Homo sapiens: one gene and its partner. The protein of the gene in region 1 purifies or fractionates together with the protein of each later gene. This does not show direct contact. Each region holds a gene or a part of one and is shown in the gene's direction. Other genes may lie near its edges.

Evidence for each region. The genes of interacting proteins can lie anywhere in the genome.
Region 2: the proteins of SLC27A4 (region 1) and DDX20 purify together in Homo sapiens (affinity purification with mass spectrometry; one large-scale study listed by BioGRID and IntAct). This does not show direct contact.

The regions. Positions count from the first base shown.
Region 1 is NC_000009.12:128,347,027-128,350,526, forward strand, and holds part of SLC27A4 (long-chain fatty acid transport protein 4), read left to right. Parts: intron 1-1,518; coding exon 1,519-1,677; intron 1,678-3,285; coding exon 3,286-3,355; intron 3,356-3,457; coding exon 3,458-3,500. UniProt on the Homo sapiens protein: Mediates the levels of long-chain fatty acids (LCFA) in the cell by facilitating their transport across cell membranes. Appears to be the principal fatty acid transporter in small intestinal enterocytes.
Region 2 is NC_000001.11:111,762,401-111,765,900, forward strand, and holds part of DDX20 (probable ATP-dependent RNA helicase DDX20), read left to right. Parts: intron 1-276; coding exon 277-382; intron 383-505; coding exon 506-607; intron 608-3,336; coding exon 3,337-3,500.

The DNA.
Region 1 (3,500 bases):
AGCACTAGCAACATGGCTGATGCTAGGTGGCCCCTCAGTACAATGGTAATCATCCTTGTGACTAATTAGGCCGTATCTAGCTCATCTGTAAAATGGGAACAAAATTAATTCCCCACTTTCCTCACAGAGCCTGCATTTTATTTGCTGCCACATTGGGCACCTGCAAAGTACTGAGGTTGCTGCTTTCCAAGAGCAGCTCTAATCTCTATAAAGACCGAGTGAGGTAGGGATCTTGGTTTTATGGATGATGAGCCTGGAGTTCAGAGGGGTTTGTGAGGAGCTCACCCAAGATCACACAGTTAGTAAGTGGTAGAACTGGGGTTTGATCTTCAGCTTGATCACAGCACTCTGTTTTTTCTCCCCACACTGTTGTGGTTGTGGGATAATGAATAGGGAAGTCATTAGGATGCTGAAAGGGGGCCTGGCATGGTGGCTCACGCCTGTAATCCCAGCACTTTTGGAGGCCAAGGAGGGCAGGTCACCTGAGCTCGAGAGTTAAAGACTAGACTGGCCAACATGGTGAAACCCTGTTTTTACTAAAAATACAAAAATTAGCCAGGTGTGGTGGCACACGCCTGTAATCTTGGCTACTCAGGAGGCTGAGGCACAAGAATCACTTGAACCAAGTGAGCCGAGATCATGCCACTGCACTCCAGCCTGGGCGACAGAGTGAAACTCTGTCTTAAAAAAAAAAAAAAAAAGATGCTGAAAGGGGGCCAGGCACAGTGGCTCATGCCTGTAATCCCAGCACTTTGGGAGGCCAAGGCAGGAGAATCTCTTGAGCCCAGGAGTTCAAGACCTGCCTGGACAATATAGTGAGACCCTGTCTGTCTCTATTTAAAAAAAGCAAAAGAAAAAAAAAAAAAAAGAAAGGAAAGAAAAAAATGGTGCTGAAAGGGGAGAGGGAAGAAGGCAGCCAGGGAAGAAGAGAGGGTTGGGCAAATCAAGAGGAAGCCAGGAAGGTGGGGCCAAGCCGACCAGCGCTGCTCCATGCCCGGGGGTGGGGGTTATGTGATGTCCGTGCAGTGCGCAGGGGAGCCTGAAAGCAGGTTCCCGCTCTCGGAAGGGGATGGAGGGCCACTGGCCTCTGACCCGCACTCCTCCCTTCTATCTGGTGCACCACAGAGTAAGTAGTGCGGGATAGTGGGGGGGAGCCCAGACCTTGATGTGAGGTAGAGCTGGCATTGCACGCCAGGTCCAGCACATTCTAGCTGTGAGCAGGTCCTCTCATTCTCGGAGCGTCAATCTTCTCATCTGTAAGAGGGGCTGTCAATGGTCCCTCCTTCCCAGGGCTGTGAGACCAGGGAATGCAGGTAAAGCGGACCTACTCTGTGGTTAGCCCATGGCTAATAGAACCATTGCCGGTGCCCCTGTCAACACTGAAGGCCCAGTTGCTTCACTGCCTCTCCTCCTGCCCAGCCAGTATCCTCAGCAACATGGCCAGCCCTGCTGGGAGCAGAGGTCCCTGGGAACATGGGGTTTTCTGGCCTGCCTGCTGACTGCCCTGTCTCCCCACAGCCATCTGTGAGGTCCATGCCAGCCTGGACCCCTCGCTCAGCCTCTTCTGCTCTGGCTCCTGGGAGCCCGGTGCGGTGCCTCCAAGCACAGAACACCTGGACCCTCTGCTGAAAGATGCTCCCAAGCACCTTCCCAGTTGCCCTGACAAGGGCTTCACAGGTGGGCTCCATCCCCTCCCCATAGAGGGGCTCTCACACAGGCCCTGGACAGAGCACTGGCCTCAGTGCCAGAAGGAGGCTTTTCTGGAAACTTGCCATGTGCCTGGAACATGTCACGTCACCTCCCTTTTTCCATCTGGAAAATGGTGACAGTAAACCTGGGCCACTCCAGGGTTACTGTGAAGGTGACATGAGCTGATGTGTATCAGTGCCAGATACAGGGCTGAGAACACAGGAGCTCACAAAGTCCAGTGTGATTTGTTGAACAAGCCTTCATTGATGCCTAATGGGCAGAATCCTGTGGACTCCGGGAACCTGCCTGGTCTGGGCTTTGGTTGGGGTTGGGTGGGAGGGTGGGTGAGGAGCAAGACCCTTTGTATATTCATCAAGTGCCTCTTCAGTGCAGGACACTTCAGGATCTCCAGCTGTGATCCTCTCCCAGCACTGTGCTGCCTCCCTGACCCCACCTCCAGGCAGCCTTCCTGAGCCTCTCACCCCTCTTCTTTTATACTGTAGCCTACCTGGTTCTTCTGCTCTTCTCATTCTCTTTCCTGTGAAGCCACATTGCCTGGTGGCTCAGAGCTTGGGCTGTCGAGTCAGATCCGAGTTTATATCCTGGTTCTACTGCTTCCTTTGTGTGAACCCTGACACCTGCCCTGCCCTTGGAGCCTCAGTTCCCACAGCCATAAAACTGGGGACAGTAGCAGAACCTACTCTATGGGGTATCTTTGAGGGTTGAAAAAAATACAGTGGGGCCAGTCCTGAAGCTAGGGTGTGGCAGGAGGGGCTCAGTAACTGGTCATTGTCATCAGCACTGTTTAACTTCTCTCTTGTATGTGAATCTGGTCTCTTGGGTGCATTTGTCAGCTGCTTGAGGGCAGGGACTCTGGCTGGTTGCTCTGGTGCCCTCATAGTGCCTAGGGCTGGCAAACAGCAGGCAGGCAGAGAGCATGAGGTGTCTCGGCAGGCATTCTAAACACGTGGAGTCTGCCTGTGGAGTTCCTGACCTCCAGGGAACCTCAAGTCTGGTAGGGCCGAGCCTCACATAGAAACTCTAACGTGGCAATCCCTGTCGAGGGCTGCAGAGTGGGACAGATCAATGCTCAGCAGTGCGGAAGCTACCTCAACACCCCACTTCCTGCAGCTAATGCCTCCCTGTGCTCTATGACTTGGGGCAGGTGTCACCTTTATCGTGAAGCCCACCTGGCACCACCTCCCCTCCTGCAAGCTTGGGCCAAATGTGGCTACTGGGTTTCAACAGGTCCTGTGCCCTCCCTCGGCACTTGTTGCTTAGTATTGGAATTGCCTGTGTCCTCATCTGACTGTTCCACTGAGCTGTGACTGCCAAGAGGGCCAGGCCCGTGCCCATCTTACTCACTGATGTCTCTCTCCACCAGGGCCTAGCACAGAGCAAGGGCCCAGGAAATATTTGTTGGAATGGATGCCGGTGTTAGAGCTGAATGGTATCTGAGGTTATCAGAACAGGCTTCCTAGCAAGGGTGTGATGGGAACAGGTGTTGAAGGGTGCACACCTGCAGGTGTCCATTTGTGTGACCCTTTGCCCAGCCCTGAGCTGCCCCCGACAGCCACTCGCGTCTGTTTTCTTTAGATAAACTGTTCTACATCTACACATCCGGCACCACAGGGCTGCCCAAGGCCGCCATCGTGGTGCACAGCAGGTAAGGGGCAGGTGCCCAGGGTGGGGTAGGCACAGGCAGGGCTGGGGAGCCTCCTTCTGCCTTTCTAGGGCCCGCTCAGCCCTTGGCCCTGTGCCTTCCCAGGTATTACCGCATGGCTGCCCTGGTGTACTATGGATTCCGCATG
Region 2 (3,500 bases), on another chromosome or scaffold:
CAGATTTCATATATTATTTTATGTAGGCGTATCTAACAAGAATACCAGAAGATAATTATCTTTCCAGTGCTGAGGAAAATACTTTCTTAAAAATGTCTTTAATATGTTTATCTTTGTCCTTGAAATTAGTCATTAGGAATGAATTTCCTTTTCCTCTGCTCCTCAGTATTCAGTTCTTAATTTGTCTCTTGACTGTACTGGAAGAATATAATATGCATTGGTATCCATGCTGTATAGTTAATGCAAACAAATAATTGCTATCTTCTTCAATTCAAGACTTCTCGTGGGATTGATGCTGAGAAGGTGAATCTGGTTGTAAATCTGGATGTACCATTGGATTGGGAGACATACATGCATCGGATTGGGAGAGCTGGCCGTTTTGGTAAAAAAAAAAAAAAAAGTTTGAGTGCTTTCTTTAAGGGGAGGGATCTATAATGTGACAGGTGGGCTTTGAATATTATTTTTGTGAAAATGATTTACTACCTAACATTCTCTCTGCTTTTAGGTACATTGGGGCTGACAGTGACCTACTGTTGCCGGGGAGAGGAAGAAAATATGATGATGAGAATTGCCCAGAAATGTAATATCAACCTTCTCCCTTTACCAGGTACATTTCATCTGTTTCATTATTTCAAAATAATTATAGTGGTGATAAGCATAATAAAAATGATAATAATAGCTAACAGAGTGCTTATGATGTGCTGGGTACTGTTCCCAGTCCTGTATGTACGTTAACTCATTTACTTCTCACCACACTCCTATGAGGTGTGTGCAATTGTTTTGTAGATGAGGATATTTAGACATAGAGAGGGTAAGTAAAGGTGTTACAGCTAGTAAGTAGCACGGAGAGGAGTGCAAGCTAACCACTGGCACATGAAAAATGAGAGCTGGCTAGGCGCAGTGGCTCACGCCTGTAATCCCAGCACTTTGGGAGGCCAGGACAGGTGGATCACATGAGGTCAGGAGTTCAAGACGAGCCTGGTCAATGTGGTGAAACCTCTTCTCTACTAAAAATACAAAAATTAGCTGGGCGTGGTGGCAGGTGCCTGTAATCCCAACTACTTGGGAGGCTGAGGCAGGAGAATCGCTTGAACCCAGGAGGTGGAGGTTGCAGTGAGCTGAAATCAAGCCATTGCACTCCAACCTGGGCAACAAGAGTGAAACTCCGTCTCAAAAAAAAAAAAAAGAAAGAAAAATGAGAGCTATGTTAGCTCTATTTTATTAGTTAGTGGCTTTGCAATTTGATTTTATTCTTTGATACAAGGGGGGATATTTTACCTCTTAAATTGTTGTGAAGGTAATTCTTGCCATATTCTCCTTTGTCACCATGTGGAAAGAACAGCATCTTTAATTTGAATACTATTTTGAAAAATTGGAGTGAAATGTTTTCTTTTGATTTCAGTTCAGTCATTTGTTCTGCTTCTTTTTAAGTGCCCTCTTGGAAACAACGCATGTTTAAAACTAGTAATGATCTCTTAAAAACAAAAAATTCTAAAAAACCCTTGAGTGGAAATATGGCATTTTTGACGTGCATGTTATACAGAAAATGTGCACTATAAATAGTGTCTATTCATATATAGATGTATGTCTATATAGAAAAATACACATATAGGTCACGCCTGTAATGCCAGCACTTTGGGAGGCTGAGGCGGGCGGATGACGAGGTCAGGAGATCAAGACCATCCTGGCTAACACAGTGAAACCCTGTCTCTACTAAAAAAAAATACAGAAAATTAGCCGGGCATGGTGGTGGGTGTCTGTAGTCCCAGCTACTTGGAAGGCTGAGGCCGGAGAATGGCATGAACCTGGGAGGTGGAGCTTGCAGTGAGCCAAGATCCGCCATTGCACTCCAGCCTGGGCGAAAGTGCGAGACTCAGTCTCAAAAAAAAAAAAGAAAAATACACATATAGTATATACATGACTTTGCAGAATATAGGATATGTAGTTATTGAATAAATATAATTGAGTATTTTACCGACTTTATATTTAATTATTTTACAGAGCTAGATTAAGCACAGATCTGGGAGTTCTATGTATTCTAGTAGATCGGGTTAGTAATAACTCATTTTATGATCTTTTACAAATCTCTGTAATTGCTGTAAGCTTAGAGTCCTGATTTGCAAAGTACTTTAGAGTAAATGGTCTTTAGGCTCTATGTCAGTTCTAAAACTGTCAGTTCTTTCTGTGTATAAGTCTATTCGTAGTCTGATATGGGAAAAAAATTGAAAATTGGTAGAAGAGGGTTAAGACTTCTTGTAGGATTCAATATCATAGCATCTAGTGATAAAAATTGCCTTTGGATACTGGAAAATGATATATTTGGATCTTTATGTAATGTTAATAGGGCCCTGAAATCATGAGAAAATGATATTCATGCTGTTAGGTCTGTATTGGACTGGGAACTTGTGTAACAACAGATGTTCAGATGAGTTTCCTGGGGCAGAACTAGGAGGGAAATTGGCCTGTATTATAGGACTAGGCAAGCAAGGGATATCAACTGAGTAGGAATGAGAGTTTTAATCATAGAATCTGTTCAGCAAAGGATCAAGAGACTTCATTGAAGTATCCAGACCTGTGGGATTTATAGATAACATGGAGCATAAATAGCAACAACAGGCAAGATCTTTGTAAAGCAGGGGCTTGATATATCTTGTCTGCCTAAGACAAAAATTGATCACACTTTGAAAGGTCTGAGTGTGGGAAGCAAATTGTCACACCTGGATGGAATAGAAAATTTAGAGGGTTGAAGCCAGCAAATTTTTTAAAAATTAGAAATGTCATTTCTGATTTTCATAGTCACAGATCTTTTCATAGTCATCTAGTTTTTTCCCCTATAGAGGTTTTCTCTTTATTGTTAAGGGCAGTGATTTCTCCCTGTTGGAATATTGGGTGACAGATTTAGTTGGGTGTACAGAGTTGCAGTTGTATTATTTCCTAGTTGATAAGCTTTGGGGAGCACAATCCATTTTCTAATATCTTGTTTTGCTGTCAGAAGTATTGAGATAAAGGGGAGGGGCTGTGGAGAGGGAGGAGAGAAAAGATGGGAGAATTGTTGCAGGCTTGTACATTACTCCTAGAGTAAGCTCTTTTTCTAGTGAGAGTGAGGGGAGATAGTGCTTGTGAGTATGGGATGGGTCTTACATATTTCTTAGGCAGGTTTCTTTATTACAGGATTGCTTCAGTCTTTAAAAATGTTATATCTATTAAACATCTTAGTATATTTGCATATTGTTTCTTAAATGTATTTGATCATAGAAAACTTTATGAAATCATTCAGAAAACAGTGGTCTAGAGTAGCTTGAGAATTTTAATACATTTTTCTTCCTTTTTATGTAGATCCCATTCCTTCTGGTCTGATGGAAGAATGTGTGGATTGGGATGTGGAAGTTAAAGCTGCTGTGCATACATATGGTATAGCAAGTGTACCTAACCAACCCTTAAAAAAGCAAATTCAGAAAATAGAGAGAACCCTTCAAATTCAGAAAGCTCATGGTGACCAC